Regions from separate parts of the Homo sapiens genome. Here region 2 is linked to region 1. Evidence: fine-mapped expression QTL. A gene starts in region 1. The other region holds a variant in brackets. All regions are shown on one strand. Distances are from middle to middle. Region 1 holds the start of IGSF9 (immunoglobulin superfamily member 9). Region 2 overlaps LINC01133 (long intergenic non-protein coding RNA 1133).

What was found. PIP is the estimated chance that this variant, and not a neighbour inherited with it, causes the effect.
Region 2: its variant is the best candidate, but not a certain one, in a credible set for the expression of IGSF9 in nucleus accumbens (GTEx, PIP 0.56).

The regions. Positions count from the first base shown.
Region 1 is chr1:159,938,987-159,950,678 of GRCh38, reverse strand. IGSF9 (immunoglobulin superfamily member 9) reads left to right here and starts at 5,066. Exons shown (of 21, transcript NM_001135050.2): 1 at 5,066-5,106; 2 at 7,051-7,282; 3 at 7,528-7,716. The coding sequence starts at 7,225. It overlaps LOC124904438 (a long non-coding RNA gene), which reads right to left and starts at 9,310. Exons shown (of 3, transcript XR_007066684.1): 1 at 9,233-9,310; 2 at 4,227-4,527. RefSeq lists an enhancer at 4,443-4,943 and a silencer at 4,786-5,080.
Region 2 is chr1:159,973,621-159,985,312 of GRCh38, reverse strand. LINC01133 (long intergenic non-protein coding RNA 1133) reads right to left here. Exons shown (of 3, transcript NR_038849.1): 2 at 8,201-8,669; 3 at 6,227-6,713. It also overlaps a transcript of SLAMF9 not described here and the pseudogene FCRL6P1. Among named protein-coding and RNA genes, the nearest start is that of LINC01133, 18 kb to the right of the region's middle. The variant C/T (reference allele first, on the strand shown) is at 5,743.

The DNA of each region.
Region 1 (11,692 bases):
ATGCAGTTGCCATGGGGCAGGGGGTTAGGGGGAAGCGAGGACTGGGGAGAGAATTAGAAAACACCCAATTGACAGGACAGGTGTACGCAGTGGGTGAATTGCAGGAAGTGGTGAAGGCTGTGATGTATGGCTGGGAGCCTAGGTGACATTTTGGAGCTCTGGGCTTTGATCTGCTACTCGCCTCTGGCCTGTGACCCTGTGTTCAGCAAACTTCCATTGAGCCACAGCCTCTTTCTCCAAGAAGTGCACACTGGAAGAGAGAAGCAGGCAGAGAGGCAGCTTGGAGCTCCTACAGAGACACAGTTAGGCAAGCGACTTGGTGCCACAGAGACAGGGTGGGTTGGGGGCCCTGGGGAGTTTCAGAAGAGGTGTCTGAAGGGTGGGGAGAGGGCCGCATGGCAGGAGGCATGCCTAACATTGCTGTGGGTCTCTTCTTCCTCTTTGTTTTTGAGGGGGAGGATGCTGATCTCCAAAGTATCTTCTAAAAAAGGAACAAGAAGTATGTGCAGGGGTCAGTGGAATGCATTCAACTGGGCAACCAATGAGACCAAGGATACCTTCCTTTTAGGAAAGTAGAACACATGGGCTGGCACAGGACCACCCAGGAGGAGAGTCTTGAGAGCGGCGTGGGGCAGGGCTGGAAGCCAAGAGTAGGGGTCTCCCTAGGTATTTGTGCAGGAGATGGAGCCCCTTGGGGCTTGGGAAGGAGGTAGTAAGGTTGGGAAACCAGCCCCAAGAGCTCCTAGTGCTGGTAAACTGGTCCCCTCTACTTTCTGAGGGCCTGAACCCTTGTCCCTCTGGAAGGCAGTCCCTTCTTGAGGCTGGTTCTCTGGGCTTCCCTTAGGCCCTGAGCAGTCTTGCTTCCAAAAAAGGCCAGCAGCCCCCAATCCCTTTGATTCCTTTTATATCTTTCCTAGGAGGCACCACTGCAGGGATGGGGACTGACTGGAAAGGCCACCTTGAGTCCATCTTGCACATAAAGAGGCAGCTCATTTCTCATGTTATTGCAGGATTGAATTCATAGAAAGTAAACAAAAGGATGAATAAATAAAGGAATGAATGTATGATAGGCCCAGGGATTTCCCTGGAAGTTGGCAAAGTTCCTTCTTCTTACAGCCGATCTCTGAGCAGAGAAGGGTTGAGGCCTCAAAAGAGGCCGAGCTTCTGGAAGAGGAAGGATGAGATCTTAAAGAAAGTTGAATATAAACTCAGAGAGGCACAAGCCGCTACCTCTGCAATATGCCAGGAACTTGGCAAGCACTGGGGAGGCAGAAGAGACACCTCTGCCTTCAAGGAATGTTTTGTGGAGTGTGTAAAGATACAATAACAAGGTAGGAAAAGGGCTGGGGTGAAGGTGAGGGCGTGGTGGGAAAAGTCACGGAATGTGTCCTGAAGGGAACAGATCAACAGAAATTTGACCTGTGGCCAGCAGTGAGTCTGGAAAGGAGAAAAGGGCATTCTATCGAGACAGAAGCTAAGTGCTAAGACACTGGTATGTGAAAGAGCACAGTAGTTCTAAGGCCTGCAAAGTCATGCACACTGCGATAAAGGGATAAGTGAGAAACCAGGCTGGAAAAGTAAGCAGGGCCTTTCTGAAGCAGGAATTCAAAGACAAACAGGACAATATCCACACCCTTGTGGGGCTAAGTGTTTCATTGGGATAGAAGATAGGCACACAAAAAGTTAAATGACAATATATGAGAAACCGCACTTCTTTACGGATCTGGTAATAAGACTGCTGCTTACAGGCATGTGGTCAACAGAGTCCCTGGATGACAATCTTTTCTTTTCTTTTTTAACTCAGATATAACTTAATATATGCCTGATTAACAACATCCCTATTATCGATTATTAAAGCCACCCTTTCTATTCTAGAATATGGGATAGTTATGTGGTGCTTAATTGGTACAAGCAATGTTAACACATCAAATGTGGTCACTACTAAAAGCCCATGTGTTCCACCTTTCAGGGTTCATTTGATATCAAGTAATTCTCTGCTTATCTATAGACAATGAGAAACTTTGCTGATTAGGAACACCTGTGCTTAACGATGCCAAGCAGACATCTCTGAGGTCACACCATCTTCTTTGTGCAGGGCTATGGAGCAGCTCAGGTCCTTTCTTCCCAAGGCCTGCTGAAATATTAGGTATACACCAGGAAGACAGAACCAATAAGATAGATAGATACAGATATAGAAATATGAGATGGGATTTATTAGGGGAATTGGCTTACATGATGGTGGAGGCCAAGTCCTACAACATGCACAAAGAAGGCCCTGGGATGGCAAAAGTGTGGCTCAGTCCAACTCCAAAAGCCTCACAACCAGGGAGGCCAATGGTATAACTCACAGTCCCAAGTCTGGAGAGCCTGGAGTTTTGATGTTCAAAGGCAAGAGGAGGAGAATACCCCAGCTCTGAGAGACAGAGAGAGAGACAGAGAGAGAAAAGAAGAAGAAGGAGAAGGAGGAGGAGGAGGAGGAGGAGGAGGAGGAAAAGCAGCAGCAGAGGAGGAGGAGGAGAAGGAGGAGGAGGAGGAAAGAGGAAAGAAGAAAGCAGGAGAAGGAGAAGAAGGAGGAAGAAGAGGAGGAGGAGGAGGAGGGGGAGAGAGAGAATATTTTCTGATATCCTTGTCAGCAATTTGAAAATATGGGGGCTGCCTGATACTTAGGTTAGGTGGAATCCTCGTTGGTTGAATAAGCTTTCCCAGAGAGTAATGACTATGAATCAAGGACAACCTAGAGGAAAGTCTTTTGTTTTGAACCTCAGGGACTATTTTTTAAATCAGCTTTCACTCCTGGCACAGTGAGGGAACAAGTTATAGGGCTAGGTTCCTTTTCTTAACAAAAAATCTCCAATATACATATAAATCAGACAAAAAATGGCAATAACAATAAAAGTCACAAAATAAGTTTCCAGAAAAAAAAGGCCATATCATAAACTTTTAAAAATTGAAAACCATTTTAAATGTCATTTAACAGAAAGTTATTTTAATGTCTAAATGAGATTAGTTTATCCTCAAGAAACCACTGGAGACAGCAGTTTAGATCAAAGGTGTGGCCAATTCTAACAGCGGGGAGGGAGATCCTTCCCAATGATTGGTAAAGATCCAAAGACTAAAAAACACTTGGCTCGGCCGGGGGCAGTGGCTCACACCTGTAATCCCAGCATTTTGGGAGGCCGAGGTGGGTGGATCATGAGGTCAGGAGTTCAAGACCAGCCTGGTCAAGATGGTGAAACCCCATCTCTACTAAAAATACAAAAATTAGCCAGGCATGGTGGTGGCCGCCTGTAATCACAGCTGCTTGGGAGGCTGAAGCAGGAGAATCGCTTGAACCCGGGAGGTGGAGGTTGCAGTGAGCCGAGATTGCACCACTGCACTCCAGCCTGGGCGATAGAGTGAGACTCTGTCAAAACAAAAAAACAAACAAACAAAAAACCCGCTTCACTCTTTTACCATTTCTTCTAGCCTTGCTTCCATGCTGCATTCATTAACATGTTTCCATTATAGTCTTATCAATAGATCAGGGTATTATGTTGAAATGCATTGTTGAAAAGCTGCTACTTTGGGACTATTTGCAGGAGGGATGGTGGGAGAGACTGGCCCACTGCTCCTGCCTCTTCCCTTCCATCTCAGTCACCCAAAAGCACTAAAACCTTTACACCTGGAAGAACTGTCCAGCAGGCAGAGCTTACTAAGGATGGAATGGGTACAACAGTAGTGCTGAGCTTCCTGGCCCAGGATGTAATGAGATAGGGGCTTGGATGACTACATGGAGAAATGATGTGCCAGGGATTCTGGGGCCAAGTAGTGCTTAGGCCCATCCTGGAGGTTCTCTCATGATGCTGCAGCAGTGATTCTGTGAGTCTGATGCCTGGTGCACTCAGTTTGAGTCTTAGTACTTCGGATTGGGATGAGATCAGCACGTTGCTTTCATGGAAGGCTTCCAAGGGAGCCAACTGAATGGGAAGGACCTGGACAGGCAATGTTGCTTAAGCCGACCCAGCATCCCTACAGCATCACCAGGCTGAGGAGGTGGAATCTCTGAGGGGCAAGATATGCAAGATATCTTTGTGTCTGAGGGCGAAGCCTCCAAGGGAGTAGGTTTGATGAAGTTTGGGTTGGGTCTCAATCCAGCTCTGCCATAACCTAGTTGGGAAAGCTTGGGCCAAGTTACTTCATCTCCCTGAGCCTCAGTTTTCTCATTAGTCAAAGGGAGCTCTACTTACTTCGCAGGGTTTCTGTGAAGGTTACACAAGAGTTATAAAGCATCTAGTCCAGGGTCTGGCACCCTGCATGGGTCCAGTAAGTGATCTTGTATTTCATTCCTCCCTTTCAATCTCCCGTGTCAGGATATCTGTCGTTTCTCCCCTCTGGGCCTGTTTCTCTGGGTCGTTGGTGCCAGAGCTGCCTTGGGAGCTGACTTGGCAACCCCACGCTCAGAGCACAGCCTTCCTCAGCTGCACACGGTGGGAGGCGCCTGGGCAAGATTTGGGAGCTCGCCAATGCAGACAGGTATTTCCAGTCCTGCTAGAGAAGCAATGGGTGGAGGTAGAAATGGGGATGGGGGAGGAGATCGGATGAGCCCGGGACCTGGGTGGATCCCCTGGGAGGAGGGCGGGGAGTCATGCTCCCCGCCTGGTTCTCCTACCCCCAGGCTCAGATTTCAACCCTCGCTGCCGCCTCTGTGGCGCGCCCGTTCGGGGAGCGGAGAGGGTCGCCCGTAGGTTCCGAAAGAAGGACGGCGTACCAGTAGCCTGGCAAGGGGCCAGCTCCCGCAGCCCTGGAGCGCGAGCCGGACCCTGCTGCCCCTCTTGCTGGCGGCGGGAAGCGGCCCACCGGCCTTTCCACGCTTGGCTGTGCAGAGGTCCACGAGGGGGCGACCTGAGCCCACGTGCAGCCGAGCTCTTCCCTCCTGAAACTACAACTCCCAGGCCGCTCAGGGGTCCCGCCCGCCTCGCCGTGCCTCTGGCGGCTCCAATTGGCCGCCGCGGGAGGGGGATTGGCGGTCTCCAGGGCGACGGGAGGCGCTCGGGGCATCCGAGGCGGGGAGGCGGGTCCGCCCCCTATTGTGTAGCGGCGAGAGTGGAGCCGAGCGGTGCGGAGCAGGTGAGGGAGGGGGCGTACTGGAGGTATAGAAGTGGTGGTGCTGGTAGTGCGGAGTTATGGGGGACAGGAGAAAGCGGGGAGTTCTAGAGAGAAGTGGAATTCGTTGCAGGAGTAGAACTAGGGGAGTTCTGGGGAGTGAAGTGGAATTCTTGGCGGGTGGGTGGGAGTTCCCGGAGAACTGCAGGAGTTCTGGAGGCAATGTGGGGGAGTTCTTGGTGGGTTCTAAGAGAAAGGAGGAGTTCCAGGGGACCAGAGAATGCGAGGGAGAAAGGAATTGTTGGGGGTGGGGTATCAGAATTGTATTGTGGGCTGATGCAGGAGAATCCCAGGGAGGGGAATTATCGGGAGGAGAGGATGGGGAGAAGTGGCTGGGGGGTGGGGAGACCAGAAGGGAGTTCTTTATAGTGCAGGAGACCTGCTGCAATTGGAGATCAGGTGCGAGAAGCTGGAATTGTGGGGGGATTGTGCGTAGTAGCGATAACTGGGAAGGGAGTAATGGGAGGACGAGGGAGTGGTGTGTGGGGAGACTAGAAGGGTGAGGAAATAGTGGAGGCCGGGGGAGTTGGAAAGATATTAAGAGACTGGGAGGAATTCTAGGGATGCCTAGTTACTCAGAGTCTCGGAAAACAACCAGGAGAGAACTAGGGGGTTCCTATATACTTGGAAAAAGGTTTTTCAGGGAAGTGTGGGAGAGCTGCCTGGAGGCAGTGGGAAACAGGGGGCTTGGTTGCTAGTGAATTGCCAGAAGTTAGACATACAGGATCATTAAGTAGAGGCAAGGATCAGACTCTGTGGAGGATGTTTTATAGTCTGTCCTGAACTTTGCGGCCAAGAGTGGGTTGGAGGACTCAGAGCAGAGTCCACTTGGCAGTGCCAGGCCCTGGCATGGACCCTCTGGCTCTCTGAGACTGCCCTAGGATCTGTGGGGCTGTCAGAAGCTCCTACCCTCCATGCCCCAGGGTTAATTTTGTACACTTCAGGGACTCACAGGCTTTTTTTTGGACCATGCCTCTGGGGTTGGGGAAGAAAGAGCTTGACAAACCCTGGCACCCCGAAGATATTGGAGGGGAGTGAGTGGGAGGGATTTGGGTGAGGTCCTTGGGTGGTGGTGCCTGGCAGGGGGAGGGCTGCTTGGCAGTATCGTGAGGAAGTGGCGCCAGCTGCCAGCCCCGGGACCTGTCCAGACCTGGAGGATGCTGCCTGGATCCCCCATACTGGCAGGTGGGGGAGGCAGCTCCTCCTCTCCCAAGTGCCTGACTCACTCACTGCCAAAGCAGTGTAGGGAGACTGAATGGAGAAAGGCCTCGGGTCCTCAGCTTCCAGAGTTTTTCATAGAGGCTGGGGAAATGGGACAAGGGATTGTATCGGGGTGTCCTGGGGACCACTTTCTGAGGCTTAAGCGCCCTGGATTTGCCCTTGACTGGCTCTCTGCCCCTGAGCAGATATCCTCAGGGCCCTTATTTGTCACAGAGGGGTGAAGGCGACAGCACTGGTTCCATCTTGCTGCTATACCTTGTGAGCATCAAGAGTAAGGAAAGAAGCGAGAGCAGCCTAGGCCATGAGAGTCTTGATCTACCATACTTCCTTCAAAAATATTTTTCCAAGCATATGAGGAACCCCAGTTCTCTTCTGGCTTAGTTTTTCAAGACCCTCAGAATGCAGGCATCCCCAGAATCCTTCCACATTTCCTAAGACCTTCCCAACTCTCCCAGCCTCCCCCATTTCCTCACCTTTCTAGTATCTGCATTCAGCACTCACCATTCTCCCAGTACTCCTACCCCTGCTCTTACTCCCCAGGGCTTCAAGATCCCCCCCTTCCCCCTACCCCTCACTTAACTACACTCCTCCCTCCTTTCTCTTCCCAGTGCCTTTCTCTAATGGTGGGGTTTCTTCTGGGCTCCAGTATTGGCCAACTCTGCATGTTGCCTTGTACTTTTCATTTAGATCTGGTGGTTCTCCGGAGAGCAGCTTCCTCGGGTGTTACATGAGCCAAGCCCTCACTGTACAGAAGAGTGAGAGCTGAAACCTGTTCCCTGAGCTGATCAGAAGGACATCCCTTGGCCCCTCCATCTGGGCTCCTGTGGATAGGAGGGGCTGGGTGAGCAGGCCAGCTGGGCTATGGTGTGGTGCCTCGGCCTGGCCGTCCTCAGCCTGGTCATCAGCCAGGGGGCTGACGGTAAGCTGAGCTCTTGGGCTCAAGAATGCCCTGTTAGCCTTGGGGTGGGTATGGGGGTGTTCCTCAAGGGTTCCTCTTTGAGCATGTGAGGGCAGGGGAGGAATAGGGCTGGTTCTGGAGAAGCTGAACTGGGGGTTTCTCCAGTCACCCAAAGTCCTAAGGTGCCTACAGAGATACTGATGGCACTCCCCCTCCCAGCACTGACCCTAGCCCCCCGTTGTGCCCTCATGCCACCCATCATGCAGGTCGAGGGAAGCCTGAGGTGGTATCGGTGGTGGGCCGGGCTGGGGAGAGTGTGGTGCTGGGCTGTGACCTGCTGCCCCCGGCCGGCCGGCCCCCCCTGCATGTCATCGAGTGGCTGCGCTTTGGATTCCTGCTTCCCATCTTCATCCAGTTCGGCCTCTACTCTCCCCGAATTGACCCTGATTACGTGGGTAAGAGTTCTCCTCAGGTGGGAGGTAGGGAGGTATCAGCAAGAAAGGTGGGCTGGGTAGAGTCGCACAAGGCCTCCTATGAACGGCTTTGTCCCTGCTCTGATCTCATCTCCAGCTCTGCTGCCTTAACTCTGCTTAATAAGCATGGCTGTGCTCCCAAGCAGTGTTAATTCATTGAAAGATTCATTCATTTACACACACACACACACACACACACACTCACACTCTTATAGCTGTGCTATTTAGGACTCCACGTGGTCTGTTCCAAAGGAGATCCTGCAGCCCTATTCCAAATATCCATTCTAATTCTGTAACTGCTTTTTCTACATCTCATCATGAAACCTCCCAGACTTCATCCTGATCTGTAGTCTCCCCTCTTGGCCCTGCCTTGGTCCTGGCTCTACTATCTGCTCACTCCTCTGCGCTCTCCCCCTTCCTCATCGTCTTAAATGCTAGTTCAGGGGTTCAAGTCTTCTAGGGAGTGGGCTGATGGGGCAGCAGGGTAGGTGCGGCTGTGACCTCTCTGCTTTTCCAGGGACACTCAGTCTGCTTCTGAGTAGAGAAGCACAGGTGTACAGAGAGGGTGGCTGGGGAGGGCCCAGGATCCCCAAAGGTCAGTGACTGGATGGGGCTGGCCTGGGTTGCTGCTTTAGGTGGCACCTGTTGGGACTTAAAATCGTGTGTAGCCTCCCTGGGCGCCTTCTGCTGCACCCCAGCTGGCTCCCTAGAATGGCTACAATGGCTCTGCTTCCTCCTAATCCCGGATGGAGCCTTAATCTAAGCGGTTTAGTGCCAGGTCTCAGAGGGCAGTCTGCAGGAGGCCCTAAGGACAGGTCTGGGCTATGGGGCGAGAGAGAGTCTTGTTGCCTCCTCTTCAGAGGGGAGACCCAGGAAAGGCCACCTGGGAGGATGTTGATGGGGAGACCCCCACCTTTTCCCTCTTTAGTTTGAATCCTGAGGGAAACCCCGGGATTGGCTGAGCCTTGCCACAGGGCGGGCTGAGCAGAGAGGGGAGGAGGTGCAGGCAGGTGATGCAGAAGGGAAGTTTCTTTTCAAACTGGGGGCAGTTATTGGCAAACAGCCTGGTGGGAGTGTATGTGTCTACACAAGCCCTGTGGGAATGGATGAAAGCGGGCCCCAATTAGCACCAGTGGAGAAAAAAACGGCTGTGCCCACCAGCCCTCCCTCCCTGCCTCCGCCTGCCCAGGCCTGGGAGGGGTCTCGGGCTGCCGGGCTGAGGCTGGACAGATTCATAATGTTGCCTGACTGAGGGCAAGGCAAGGGGAGGTGGAAGAGGGAGGGGCTTTTCCTGGGACTCCACCAGGGAGACTTGAAGCTCTTCCTTCTCTCCAGCTTGTGTCCTGCCTTGAGGTCCCTCAGGCCTGAAGCCACTGGATGGTTAGCAACTTTGTCTACCTGTGGGTCTTCTGTCTGTGCTGTTGCTTGAGCTACAGGGGCTGTGAGCAGTAGCCTCTGGGACTTACTGTCTGCTCCTATCCTTTGTTCACACCCCTACCTCCGTCTGGAGCTCTTGGTCAGGCCAGAGCCGGCTGAGGGAGTTGGGACCTGAGGGAGGCCCCTGAGCCCATTAACCCTTTTACTGCCTCACAGTGTGGAAGGGGCCTCTCAGCCTTTGTGTAGGGGACTCGGAACTGCAGTTGCTAAGCAACAGGAGGTAGAGGTTGCTAAGGACAATGCTCTTCTGTCATAAGCCCTCTGGGCAGTGAAGGGGAGATGGGTCGGGGACTGTTGTGGGGCTGGTGGCCTAGAATGTGTGCGGAACCCTGAGAGAGACTGTTGGATTAGGGACCACACAGAAGGGAAGGCTTCCCATCTTTGAGGACTCTAGAAGCATCTAGTAGAGGAGACTGGATTTATCAACGATGCCATGGAGTGAAAGCAATATAAAACAAGCTAGGACTAAAGAGGAGGATTCAGTTAGCTGCTGTGTGTAAAGCGCCCCAGCCTGTGCCTGCACAGTGCCTGTGTGGTGTGAACCCATGACCAGGCCTCTGGAGGGAAGGAAGGTTAGGCTTAGTGGACACCAGCTTTCCTAAGGTGGGTCTTAGACCAACTCATTAAAATGGCAGGATGGGCTTTTGTGCTGTATTTCTTGGGATTTTCAAGATGCCCCACACAGCAGAAGGGATGTGCATTTTTTTCTCTGCCCTGAGTTGTTTGATAAAAATCAGTGACCTCGTTCTCCACTTAGAACTCCCCTGCTTGCTCTAGTCACCTCCCCTCACCACCTTTTATTCTTAATCCTCTGCCCAGTCACAGCTTCCCAGAAGCCTTCCTTACTCCTCTTGCTTCATAGTGCAATGTCTGGGCGCAGTTAGCACCATTTTTTGAACTTCTTTGTGGATGTGTGGACGTGAACTTGCCCATTTAGGTGACTGTGGGTTCCCTGCCTTCCGAGAGCTTAAGAGAGCAGAGACTGTGTCTCCTGTTTTCTTCACACGCCGCTGCATATGGGAAGATCTGAAGTCAACAGGCTTTAGCCCTGCAGGTGGAGGGAGGCCTCCAGGAGGTGGGCCCAGGACTCAGGAGGACTCAGGGCTGCCCTGCTGGCGATCTTCCTGTTCTGTAACACTACAGGTCTAGCAGTCCAGCTGTCACAGAAAAGCTAGGACATGCAGTATGCTTCTTTGGATATTCTGAGTAACATTTGGACTGTTACCCATTGGCTACCAGCATCTCCCAAGTGAGAATACATAGATTACCCCCAGTGCCCTGAACAGCACTCGGTCCTAACACCCGTGTCCATGGAAAGCACGCCGCGTCTGGAGAAAGAAGCCTGGCTTTGTCACTTACTAGCCATGTGATTTTGGAAAGAAACTTAACATTAATTCCTTCAGCTACAATGGAATTCTTGGGAGGATTAAATATGGTGACAACGCCTAATATTAGATGGCCTGTATTCCACACTCAATCTTCCTTCCCTCTTCTTCCTTCTTTGTAGAGCTATAATGAAAAGTATCATGTGGGACACAGAAGAGGTTGCAGTCTGGGGTCTGCAGGGCTTAGCGGCCAGGCAGATTAGCTTTCTTGAGGAATCCTGACAGTGGGTGGAAGGGTATGATGATGTTAAATATTTACCCGCTGGGCCTAGTCTTATCTCCGGGGTGGGGATTTCAACACCTAGCCCTTTAAGCAGGTCCACCCATCCTAGAGAATCCACACCCTGGAACTCATTCTAAGTAGAAAAAGACTCTTGGCTAAGATCACAAAGCCTGCCTCAACTTGATCCTTCTCTTCTTTCTGAAATAGATTTTCTTATTTCTGAAACAGATCACTCTAGAGGTAGAATGGAAGCAAACTGGAGGGGCTGAGCACTTTCACAGCTTCAGAATTTCTAGCATTAGGAAGAGCTGGAGTGGACACTATGCAAAGGGACTTGGAGCTGCATTTGCAAACAACATAAGATTAAGAAAATGCAGCCAGGCACAGTGACTCACAGCTTAATCCCAGCGCTTTGGGAGGCTGAGGCAGGAGGATCCCTTGAGGCCATGAGTTTGAAACCAGCCTGGGCAACATAGCAAGACCCCTCTCTTCAAAAATTAAACAATTAGCCAGGCATGGTGACACGTGCTTGTACTACTAGCTACTTGAGAGGCTGAGGCAAGAGGATCGATTGAGGCCAGGAGTTCGAGGCTGCAGTGAGCTACAATCAAACCACTGTACTCCACCTGGGCAACAGAGTGAGACCCTGTCTCTAAAAAAAAAGAAAGCTCCATTTGTTCATAGCAGAGGTCAAGGTGGGGATGAGCAATGTGATGTAGAGGGGAGGAGGCTGGAGGCAGGGAGACTGGCAAGTAGGCTGTTGGAGAAACCCAGGTGAGACATGCCACAGGTGTAAAGGTGAGGACAGCAGAGAAGGGGAAATGTTTAGGAGGTAGGATTTGAAAAACCTAATGAGCAAGTAGATATGGGAGGTAATCGAGGAATCTAGGAGATGCCAGGTTCCTGATAAGGT
Region 2 (11,692 bases), 35 kb before region 1:
ACGGTCACCAGACAGAGTTAAATTTCCTGTTCCAAAGAGGCACCCAAATGATAGAAGTTCAAGCACCATGGCAAACTGTTGGATAAACATTTTGGAGCAGATGGTAGGGATTAAAGGAATAGCCACCTCATGGAGTGTACGTACAGGTGCCCACTGAGGCACTGTGTGGGGGTGTGGTGCTCTGAACTTATTGGACATTTAAAAGAGAAAGGAGCGATTACTTCCTTCTGTCCTGGTGCAGGGGCCTGTGTTGTCTCTGAGGCCAACTGAATTCCCTCTCTTGGTTTAGTTGTACCTGTCAGTCCAGAATTAACGGTGTGCTCGGGGATGTTCCTCAGTCAGCATTGTAGAAATTCAGAGCCCAAGGAGCAGATGAGTACCGGGGTGACTGTAAAGAAGTCAGTGTATGACATCACTTTCCCTAAATGTGTAGGGCTTGCTTCTAGACTGTTCTATTCAGTAACGGGTCAGAGACTCAAAAGAGCACTGTCTGAAAGAAATATAATGTGAGCAACATATAGAATTTTAAAGTTTCTAGTAGCTACACTAAAAAAAGGTGAAATTTAATTTTAATATATTTTATTTAATTGGATGTGTTAAAAATGTTATTTCAACAAATAATTAATATTAAGATTACTGAGCTATTTTACATTCTTTGTTTTGTACTCAGTATCTGAATTTTGGTGTGTTATTTTACACATACAGCATACCTCAATTCGGAAAATCCACACCTGTGTCGAATGGTCACATGTGGCTTGTGGCTACCATATTGGACAGTGCAGCTCTAAGACATCCAAGGGTATAATAGCAAGCATTTATTGAACGATTACTATTACATGTATTGAATCAAGCAACACTCCAAGGCAGCTGCTATTTACTGAAGAATACAAGTGTATTCTTTGGTTTGTGGCCCTTTCCTCTGTCTTTAGGAAGCCAATAGCATAGCGTCTTCTGTCTCCAACTCTGCTTTCCTCTCTGCTTCTGTCATCAGGGGGCTGCATCCTGCTTTTCTCTTAGAAGGACTCTTGTGATTACATCAAGCCTACTCTGATAATCCAGGATAATCTCCCAATCTCAAGAGCCTTAATTTAATCACATCTACAAAGTCTCTTTTGCCATATAATAAAACATGGACAGGTTCCAGGGATTAGAATGTGGACATCCTGGGGGGCCATTATTCAGCCTGCAACAGAGGGTGACTTTATTTTCACAAGCATGTAAGGAAAACTCTGAGCTGAGACTGCAGTTTCTCTACTTCTTCCTTACATCATCTGTGTAACTCGGCTCATGCTGCTCTAGAAGAGACCATCTCCCCTGCTCCATCATATCTGCAGCCCTGGCTGCTGCAGGGAAAGGCACTGCCTTTCTTCTCCAGGTGTCTTTTGTTCTTCTTCCGCCCTGGCCCCTTGCTGCCATGCAGGACTCTGCTGGGAGTGACGTGGGTCTCTTTCCCTGAGAGAGCTGAAGATCTGCAAGGAGACCTTCTCCCTGCCTTTTGCTTCGCATTTTGAAGGGAGGGAGGAGACTAGCCAGAACCACTGACCAGGGGAAGCACTCTTATCCTCTTAGAAAGGACCTTAGGAATCATCTATCCCCTCCACCCCATCCCTGCCTTGCCACGAGGATTAATTGCTCTCTAAGTGCCTTGGCCAATGTTGACTTTCAGCCTAAGCTTGACCTCTCAAGCAAGTTGTTTCCTTCCTAACAATAGTATTTCAAGTGAATTCATTAAAACTTCTTAGTTGCAAGTAATAGAAACTAACTTAAATTAACTCAAGCAAAAAACAAACAAAACAAAACAAAAACAAAAAACAAACCAAGGAGTGGTCAGAAATCCACTCCTCGGGGGAATTTGATCTCTTGCTTTTCTTGGCAACTTGAGGACCCTTTTCCTAGGAAAGGGGGACTTTCCCTGTCCCCCTCTGACTTCCAGCACATAATCAGTGATTGTGACTCCAGTCCAGGTCCACTCAATACCCACTTATCATATGTGCTGCATTACAACCAACAGATGAAGAGGCACAGATGGATGCCTCTTTCATCTGGTGAACTGATAGAAGTGCTGTGATGAACCTCCACAGTAGAAGAAAAGAAAAGGATGAAAGACACATGTTGCTAATTGGCCTTAAACCTCCTCTGATGGGAACAGGAGGCAGAAGCTGGTCATGAGGGTAAGTTGATAAGAGAGGAGCCTAACCAGGGTTCTAATGAATGGCCAAGATATTGGGATATAAGCTAGAAACTCTAATGTTGATATGTTTCTTTTTTTCTTTTTTTATTTTTTTGAGACGGAGTCTCACTCTGTCACCAGGCTGGAGTACAGTGGTGCAATCTCAGCTCACTGCAACCTCTGCCTCCCGGGTTCAAGCGATTCTCCTGCCTCAGCCTCCCAAGTAGTTGGGACTACAGGCACGTGCCACCACACCCAGCTAAGTTTTGTATTTTTAGTAGAAACGGGGTTTCACCATGTTGTCCAGGATGGTCTCCATCTCTTGACCTCGTGATCCTCCCACCTCAGCCTCCCAGAGTGCTGGGATTACAGGCGTGAGCCACCGCGCCCAGCCATGTCGTTATGTTTCCTACACACATGTGTGTGTATGCATATGTACCCATATAGACATACTTAACATTACACGATGTACTATGCTAGTGTTGGAGATACAGAAATGACTTTATGCCTACCCTAAAGGCTTCCCTAAAAGACAAAGAATTGTGGGACAGTTTGATAAATGTCATAAGAGATATTAGTAAGTGCTAAAAATAGCACAAAGAGAGGCATGATTTCCTCTGCTTGGGTGTGTCCAGGAAACCTCTATCGAGAAGGGAACATTTGCATGGATCTTAATAGGAATTTAAAGATCACTGGGAGAAGTGTGTGTGTATGAGTGAGTGAGTGTGCGGCAGGAAGGGGTGATGAGAATGGAGAAAGATGTTCCAAAAAGGAGGCGTTATATGTCCACAGGCCTTGATGTGAAGCGGCATTGACGTTTAGACTAGAGTGTAGATAGTTCCATGTGGCTGTCAAGATGGGGCCTTGGGTAGGGAATAAGAGAGTGGACAGTTGAGCACAGGCTGAGTCTCAAGAGACATAAGCTTCTAATTTATCTTGTAAGTAAACAGACATCTTGGAAAGAATGGAAGCAGAGCGTGACAAGATCAGATCTGGACTTTAGAAAGGAGGAGGACTCTAACAGTGTGGAGGATGAATTGAAGGAAGGACAACTAGGGGCAGCCAGATTTGTTGAGAAGCAGAGGCCAAGACAAGATTAGACCTGCAGAGGCATTGTGGGAAACACCACACCTGTGAAGGATGAAGAGCGGGCAGAAGGAGTGGTCAGGAGAGACTTCAGACTGCAGTGCAGGTCAGACACCTGGGAAAGGAGAGCAGGCTGGGAAGAGGATCAGGTAGGATGATCCTCAAACTGTGGTGCAGCTCCAGGATGTCCCCGCCAGGCTTAGTGTCCCAGAACAGAGCTCGCCTCTTAGCGAGGCCTCACATCAGGCACAGTGGCCTGTTTCTAGCCCTGTTTCTGGCACCCTCTGTGCTCAGTCATTGGCTGGGAGCAGCATGGGGCAGTGTGAACACCCAACACAACCAAAATATAGCAGCAGGAGGCTGGAGGCTTCTTGCACCAGGTTCTCTTGAAGGGAGACCTGAGCACACTCCCTGACAGCACAGAGATGCCTGCAGCAGCACAGTCTGCTCTAAGGCCAGTCACGGGAGAATGGAAAGCAGATGGAAAAGAGGAGCTTGCCTTGTTTGCCAGCACCCCCTGGTCTGGGAAGGCTGTTTCCCCTCTGGCTTGTGAGGTTGCTGCCCTTGCTCCTTTCTTGGTTGGGGCCAGAAGTTGTCCTCCGCTTTTCTTGAGGACATCACAGGCTTGGCAGATGCAGGAGTCAGCTCAGGCTGCTGTAACACATGGCACAGACCAGGTGGCTTAAACAACAGAAGTTAATTTCCTCATATATCTGGAGGCTGGAAGTCTAAAGTCAAAGGTCAGCAGGGTTGGTTTCTTCTGAGGCCTCCCTCCTTGGCTTGTAGATGGCTGTCTTCTCCTTGTGTCTCCGCACAGTCTTCCCTCTATGTGCATCTGTGTCCTGGTTTCCTTTTCTTATAAGGACACCAATCAGAATGGATTAGGGCCCACCCTAATGGCCTTATTTTAAATTGATTACTCTTTAAAATACCCTGTCTCCAAATACAATCACATTCCGAGATACGGGGGTCAGGGCTGCAGCATAGGAGTTTTGGGGGCCACAATTCAGCCCATCACAGAAGGTAAGAGATATGCTGCCTCCACTGCCCTCTCACACATCAAGAGCCCTGGTCCCTTAGTGTATGCAGGCTTCTCCTTCCTGTGAGTTCTGCTTCTGCGTGTGACGCAAAGAAAGTCAGGTGGGTCCAAGAGATGCCAACATGCAGAGAGTGATGGAAGAGAGCAGGGAAAGCATTAGAGAGTGAACAGTAGTAAGGCTGGGCACGGTGGCTTACGCCTGTAATCCCAGCACTTTGGAAGGCTGAGGCGGGTGGATCATCTGAGATCGGGAGTTCGAGACCAACCTGACCAACATGGAGAAACCCCATCTCTACTAACAATATAAAATTAGCCGGGCATGGTGGCGCATGCCTGTAATCCCAGCTACTCAGGAGGCTGAGGCAGGAGAATCACTTGAACCTGGGAGGCGGAGGTTGCGGTGAACTGAGATCGCACCATTGCACTCCAGCCTGGGCAACAAGATTGAAACTCCATCTGAAAAAAAAAAATAGAGTGAACAGTAAGCATTAAATAGGGCTGAGCTCTGACATGAGGTGAAATTAAACCCACTTTAGCCCTTGCTCCTCAGGGATCTCTGTTGCCCATCAGTGAAGGAAGTGGGTGGGCACTTGGGCAGTGAGGTTGGGTGTCTTTCTACCACCAGTCACTTTCAGCCATGAGGTAAAGGAACGAAAGGTACAAGGCTGGTGGAGGGCGTCGGGGGATGTGGCAGAGGGGAAGAGGCTGGGAAGAGGGGTCTCAGGAGGATGGGCACCAAGCCAGATGAGAAGGCGAGTCCCCCTGACAGGAGCAGGTCCAAGTGCACAGCCCACCGTGGGGAGGTGCCTGCAGCCCAGAAGTCCCTCTTGGGAGTGTGTTCAGAATCATTGTTCTGTTGGCTGGAGAGGGATGAACCCTCCACAGCAGAAGAAAAGGAAAAGGATGGAAGACACACGTTGCTGATTGGCCTTAAACTTCCTTTGCCTTGGTTTTGCTCAGAGCATCCCAATCTTCTCCCCGACCCTAATTTTCCTCTAACTCCCCACGCCGATTCTGTGCTCCATCCAGACCTCACCACCCAAAGTTTCCTAAAACGTCCTGTGATTTTCAATCTCTGAGCCAGTTCCTTCATGTACAGTTTATTAATTTATGGCTGCCTCCAAATCCCTTCTCAATGCTATTGGTGAGACCTCCAACAGGATGGGCTATCTCCCTTCTTTAAACTCTCACAGCAACCTGACACTTCGCTTTGTGTCTCCATACGTGTTTTGTCCTGCATGGCTAGACTGTCTGGGGACAGAACTGTTTTATGCAACTCTATGTCTTCAGTTTTACTTACATATAGTAGAATTAAATACATCTTTGTTGAGTTGAATTAAAGTGAAAAAAAAAAAAAAGATTGCCTTACGTTATTTTCTCTAGGTAATTCATGGTAAAGAGTCTCATGAAGATCTCTTCCAGTCAAGAAAATATTTTTTTTGTCTAC[C/T]GTACCTTGACTTTTAACTATTGCCTTTTGAAGCTCAGATTGATTTAAAGCACTTGGCTTAAATGCTAAAGCTTGCACATTTGCCAACATGAGCTCATAGTTTCATCTAAGCCTGCTTACCCAAGGAGATTTACATTTTTTCTGAACATTTATAAACATCTTAGACCAGTTTCTAAACAGAGATATGATGTGATTTCTTCTTATTTTCCTACCAGTGTTTGCATATTAAAAGAACTTGGGGAACATAGTGGCAACCAAAAAGACATCAGCGGAATTTCATGTGTGTTGGGGTGGTGTCCTAGAGAGAGGTGATTAAGAAGGGCTTTCCCAAAACAACTCAAACCGTACCACCTAGGTAGCCTTATGCTGCTCCTGCTTTGTAACCATTATTACAACCTTTCCTTACCTCCACCACTTTTGCAGGGTTTTCTGCTCATGCTAAGTGATCCACACATTCAGAAAATTGAACATTACCAAATAGAAGTTAAAATGAAACAATGCCAACAGCATTGACGAGACACATTTAATAACATACAAAGCTAATTTAGTGCCTCATAAAGAATAAGGATAAATGGATCCCTATGCCCTCAAACCAAAAACAATCTTTATTTTCACATAGTTGAATTAAGTATTTCTGGGGCCAGTGTGGGGGAAAGATGGTATGGAATGGGAGAATCCATCCTTCCTGCAAGAGGAGAAAGCCAGGGACTACTCTGTCTATATTTTTACAAGGAAATTCTTCCTTTGTTTCTAGTAAACAAACTCAGAGGCACTGATGTTGGGCTGGAACAAGGACTTTCTGGTGGGGAGGGCAGCTGGACTGCATAGACTTGAGGTTCCATTTTTGAGGTTCACCTTGCCTTGGGGTCTGTCCTTGGTTACCACCACTGATGTCTACCATGCTGGACTTTGGAGAACTTTGCTTCCACTTCAGCACACCTTGGTACCTTCAGTCAAGCTTTTATTAAAGACTAGGGAAAACAAAAGGGCAATTTAAATAAGAAAAGAGTGCCAGGAATCTGTCTTATAAGATACAGTTTATGCATGCTCATCTGTCTCCCTTCTTAGCTGCTGGCCTGTCTGGATGCCCTCTTAGCATCTGTGACCCAGGTGTCTACATTTGTCCATCTACCTACCTTAAGGTAGAGCCAGGTTCTGGAGATATTAGGAAATCTTCCTATGTGCCTGAGACCCACCTCGTCAGATCTGGAGTCCTGTCTAAAGCCACCTTTTTCCTAACAACCCCAAAGTCAAGGTCTCCTTTATGAAGTTCCCCTCGCCTGCCCCCATCTCCCACCCCTAAGTCTTGTCCTGCTTGCTTCTTCTTGGAGGACAAGGTGGTTGTCACTGAGGTCTCACCTGGCCCTTTTGTCTTGTTCCTCCTGAAGTGGGGAGGGGTATGACATGGGCTCACTCTGTGGAGACCCTGAAGCCAGGATGGCCAGGATGCAGTGCAGAAATGTTCCTATGGAACTTAATAGGAACTATGACCTGGTGGGGTGGGGCAGTGGTGGGGGCTGGCAGTTTTCAAATCTGTGTAGGAAGAGGGAGGAAGAAAGGCCACAGATCCTCCTGTATGCACCAGTCCCACTTCTAACCACTCTTTCTGTCAGGAGGTCCTTATTATCTAATCTCACCCCCTCCCTTTTCCCCATGGCAGGTCCCTGTGATGGAAAGTTTGGCGAGCCTTTGATCTCATGTTCCTGCATGTCTCCATGAGTACGCCTATGTTCATGTCCCATTCTGACCACCTGGGCTGTTTGGAAATGTCTGTCTGAGGGGACAGCTGTCTGGCTGAGGTGTAGATGGCTGGCTCCATCTTACTGAGCTCAGGCTTCTGTGCCTGTCTGCACAGGGCTGTGGTCTGGGTCTAGGCGAGAAAGCCTCAGGGTCCTTTCCCTCCCCAGTTCCTGGTGGCAAACATCTATGCCTGGTCACGTTCCGCTTTTCTTTGGTCATTTTCTTCCATTTACACCAGGCTTCTCTACTGAGTGAAGTCCTAGCCCTACCAGCAGTAGCTGAAGGATGCTGTCACTGGCCCTATAGGGAGCTAACCCTGCAGGGACATGACTAATCTTTTCTATAACTGGGGAGATGGCATGGGAGGAGGGTAGAAAAGAGACTAGAACCAATTTCTAGCAGAAAACTCTTCTTTTTCTCCTGAAGTAAAGACTACATCTGCTAACCTCACGTCTTCCAGTACTACCTGGGAACTCAGACTGTAACTACAAGGATATCAACTCAGCCATTCTTTGTCTCTCTCTAATCTTCTGCCTTCAACAAAAATGCAGGACTAGGGAAAGCAAAAAGGAAACTTAAAAAAGAAATGAGTGCCAGGAATTTGTCTTATAAGATAGGGTTTATCCTTCCTCATCTGCCTTTCTTCTTAATTTCTGACCTGTCTGGATGTCATCTTAGCATCTGTGACCCAGGTAGCTATACTTGTCCATCTACCTACCTTAAGGTAGAGCCAGGCTGTGGTGAGATTAGGAAATCTTCCCGGTCATGTTGTTCATCTTTTCACCTACTCTCCCCCTAGCTACAATCTTCTTTTCTTTCTTTCTCTTTCTTTCTTTCTTTCCTTCTTTCCTTCTTTCCTTCTTTCTTTCTCTTTCTTTCTTTCTTTCTTTCTTTCTTTCTTTCTTTCTTTCTTTCTTTTTTTCTTTCCTTCTTTCTTTCTCTTTTTTTTTAGAGAGATGGGGGTCTCAATATGTTGTCCAGGCTGGACTCAAACTCCTGGGCTCAAGGAATCTGAATAGTTAGGACTACAGGTGCTGGGCTCTGGATTCTTGATACTGTCTTCTACTCTTTACCTCCTCCCAACCATTCCCATTGTATACTGAGAAACCCAGTTCCTTAGAATCTTCAGTTGCAGGGAATGGATCCATTCTCAGGTAACTTCAAGAAAGAGAGGTTTATTGAAAGCTCTATGGGGAAATAAAGAAGATTGGAATATTTTATTTTATTTAGCTTTTTAATTGAAACATATATGTGAATATAGTAAATGCATTAAATTTTTTAAAAAAGAACAAAGAAGCACATTGTGAAAATTGTTTCTCCCTCACCCTAGCCCATGAGTTGGTTACCCAGTCTTCCCTTACATTCTAAACATTTTATATGCATATGCAAGCATACATATGTGTGTGAATATGTATGCATGTTTCTTTTTATATACAAATGGAGGTGCACTGTACACATGGCTTCACATGTTGCTTTTAGTGTTTTTCACTAACACTTTATCTTGGGCTCATTCCATACAGGTATTTATGGATCTACCTTGTTCTTTCTCATGGCTACATTATATTTCATTATATGGCTGGACCATAATTTATTTAACAAATTCCTTATTAATAACCATCTTAGTTGTTTTTGCCCTTGTGCTATTTTAAGCCATATATATTATATAGATATTCTTTATATATAAAAAGCAACAGGTTAAAAACAACTTACACACACACACACACACACACACACACACACACACTACAACCTATACTCCTTCCTTGAGTTCTGGAGTGCTCCATCCACACAGCTGGCTTCAAGCACCACCAAATGTAAATGACTCCCAAGTCTCTATCTCCAGCCCAGAACAGATCCTGAAGTTACATATAGACTTTAACTGAGGGATATCTCCACCTGGCCATGCCAAGAACATCTCATCTGAAGATGGACACATTTTAACTTACATTTTCCTACAGATCAGCGTCTTGCCCTCAATTTCCTATTATCCTGAATTCCTCCCTCTCTTTTGCCCCTCACCCTCATCAAATCTTCAAGTCTGTATCATCAAGTCTTATAGATTCTGCCTCCTTAGTGTCACTCTGATCTACGCCCTCCTTTTCACCTCACTGCCATTGTTTCAGCTGACACCTCTCTCTCTTGCCCAGGCAATTGCAATAGGCTCAGTCTTTTTCTCACCCTGTTCTGATCATTCTTTACTTGGCAGCCATCAGATCTCGAATGCAAGTTTGATTCAATTACTCCCAATTTCAAATCCCTCCTTTCCTTTCCCACTGCTCTGGTGTAGTTTGAGTTTGTCTGATTACTGCCTCCCCAGGCTTACTTCTTAGCACATCCTCTTCACAGCCTGCCTCTCCAGCCATGCCACACTCCACCAGTTCCCAGACTACTCCTGGCTGTGTCCTTGCTCATGTGGCTACATCTTGAAACAGCCTCTCCCTACATCTCCCTTATACTGAATACTTATCTTGCAAGATGAGGTCAAAGCAATCTCACCTCTTTGGGTCTCCTCCCCAGGTAGAACTAAGCAGTTCCTCTCTGTGCCCCCTCTGTCACACTTTATCTCTTTTTTCGCTTTCTACACTATAAACTAGCATATATCCGAGGGCCTGGCATGTAGAGGTACTCAATAAATGATTGATGAATGAATAAGTCAATGAATGAATAATGAATAAATCCTGCTTCTCTGCCTTCCATTGAATCAGTACCTTTGTTAAAGAGATGAGATCTCTGACGTACATATGAGTACTGAGACTCCCAGGGAGTTATCTATGTTACTGCTTGGGGAAGGAGTTCAGACCACACTTGGAAACCCAAGTGCTCTGTGGTTGGTGGCAATAGAGAAACCAGGTTTGAACACCCGGGCCTATGCTCAGGGACCTTGTGATCCTCATAAGTTCCAGGAGTGATGGAAGGTGCCTATGGTCCAGGAAGAGGCTGATTACACCTGTGTTCTTCTTGCTCATAATGGGAATGAGAAGGGAACTCTTCCATGAGCCCCATTTCTGCCATCCTTCATCATGATCCTCAGGCTTGACTCCCAGCCATGGCTGTTGGCTCTTGAGGCTACCTGACCTATGGGAGATTCCATACCTGGGGAGAGACCCTTGTCCTGCCCAATCAGGACAGAGAACGTAAGTTTAGGATGAGAACAGACAGGACGGGGCCTTTGCATGGCTGGGGTGGAAACTGAAGCCCCTGCTGGGGATCGGTATTGGTGTGGGGCATCGATGGAGTCTGGACCTCTGGGAGCCTTTAAGGAAGAAGGTAGGAGCGAGCCAGATCAGGCTCCTTCAATCCCTGGATTCTCACACGTCCGGACCTGGAGCTGTCACTGGAGGTGGGGACTATTGGGTCAGCCTGGACTGGGGCAGCATGTGAAGTGTGAAGAAATTGGAATCTGTTCAGGAGGAATAAGATAGCTACATAATTGGGATGATTCTAGCTGGAACCAAATATGTCAATGGGGAAGAAAACCCAATATATGGTAGGATCAGGGAGAGAGAAAAAGGGAGAAGAAAAGGGAAAGGATAGAGGCAGATGGGAAGAGAAGAGGAAGGAGAGAAGGAAAGGGAGGAGAGGGAGTAAAAGGAAGTCCAGGTCCTGCCCTTCTCTGGTCAGCATGAAGGACTGGAGACAGTGACACTGCACCGGTACCATCCAAGGGCCTCCATCCCCAGCAGAGGCCTTAGGCTGGAGGACAGAGGGAGAGAAGTGACTGATGGGACCTGCAGCTCCAGGGCTGCCCTGTTCCTCTGCCTTGCAGCCTGGCTGTACCTCCAAGCCTGGCCAAACCCTGTGTTTGAAGGAGATGCCCTGACTCTGTGATGTCAGGGATGGAAGAATACACCACTGTCTCAGGTGAAGTTCTACAGAGATGGAAAATTCCTTCATTTCTCTAAGGAAAACCAGACTCTGTCCATGAGAGGAGCAACAATGCAGAGCCGTGGCCAGTACAGCTGCACTGGGCAGGTGATGTATATTCCACAGACATTCACACAAACTTCAGAGACTGCCATGGTTCAAGTCCAAGGTAAGTCACCAGCTTGGGAGTTTGTGGGGCAGGAGGTGCCTCTCAGGGGTCCCGTCTCTAGAGATCAGTAGCTCTCTGGACAGGACCCCTGTCTCTGGCTGCCCCTCATGCTGGGCCAATGTGTGGGGACCCGAGGTTTCCCAAGATGTTGTCTCAATACCCCCATCTCCCCACCAT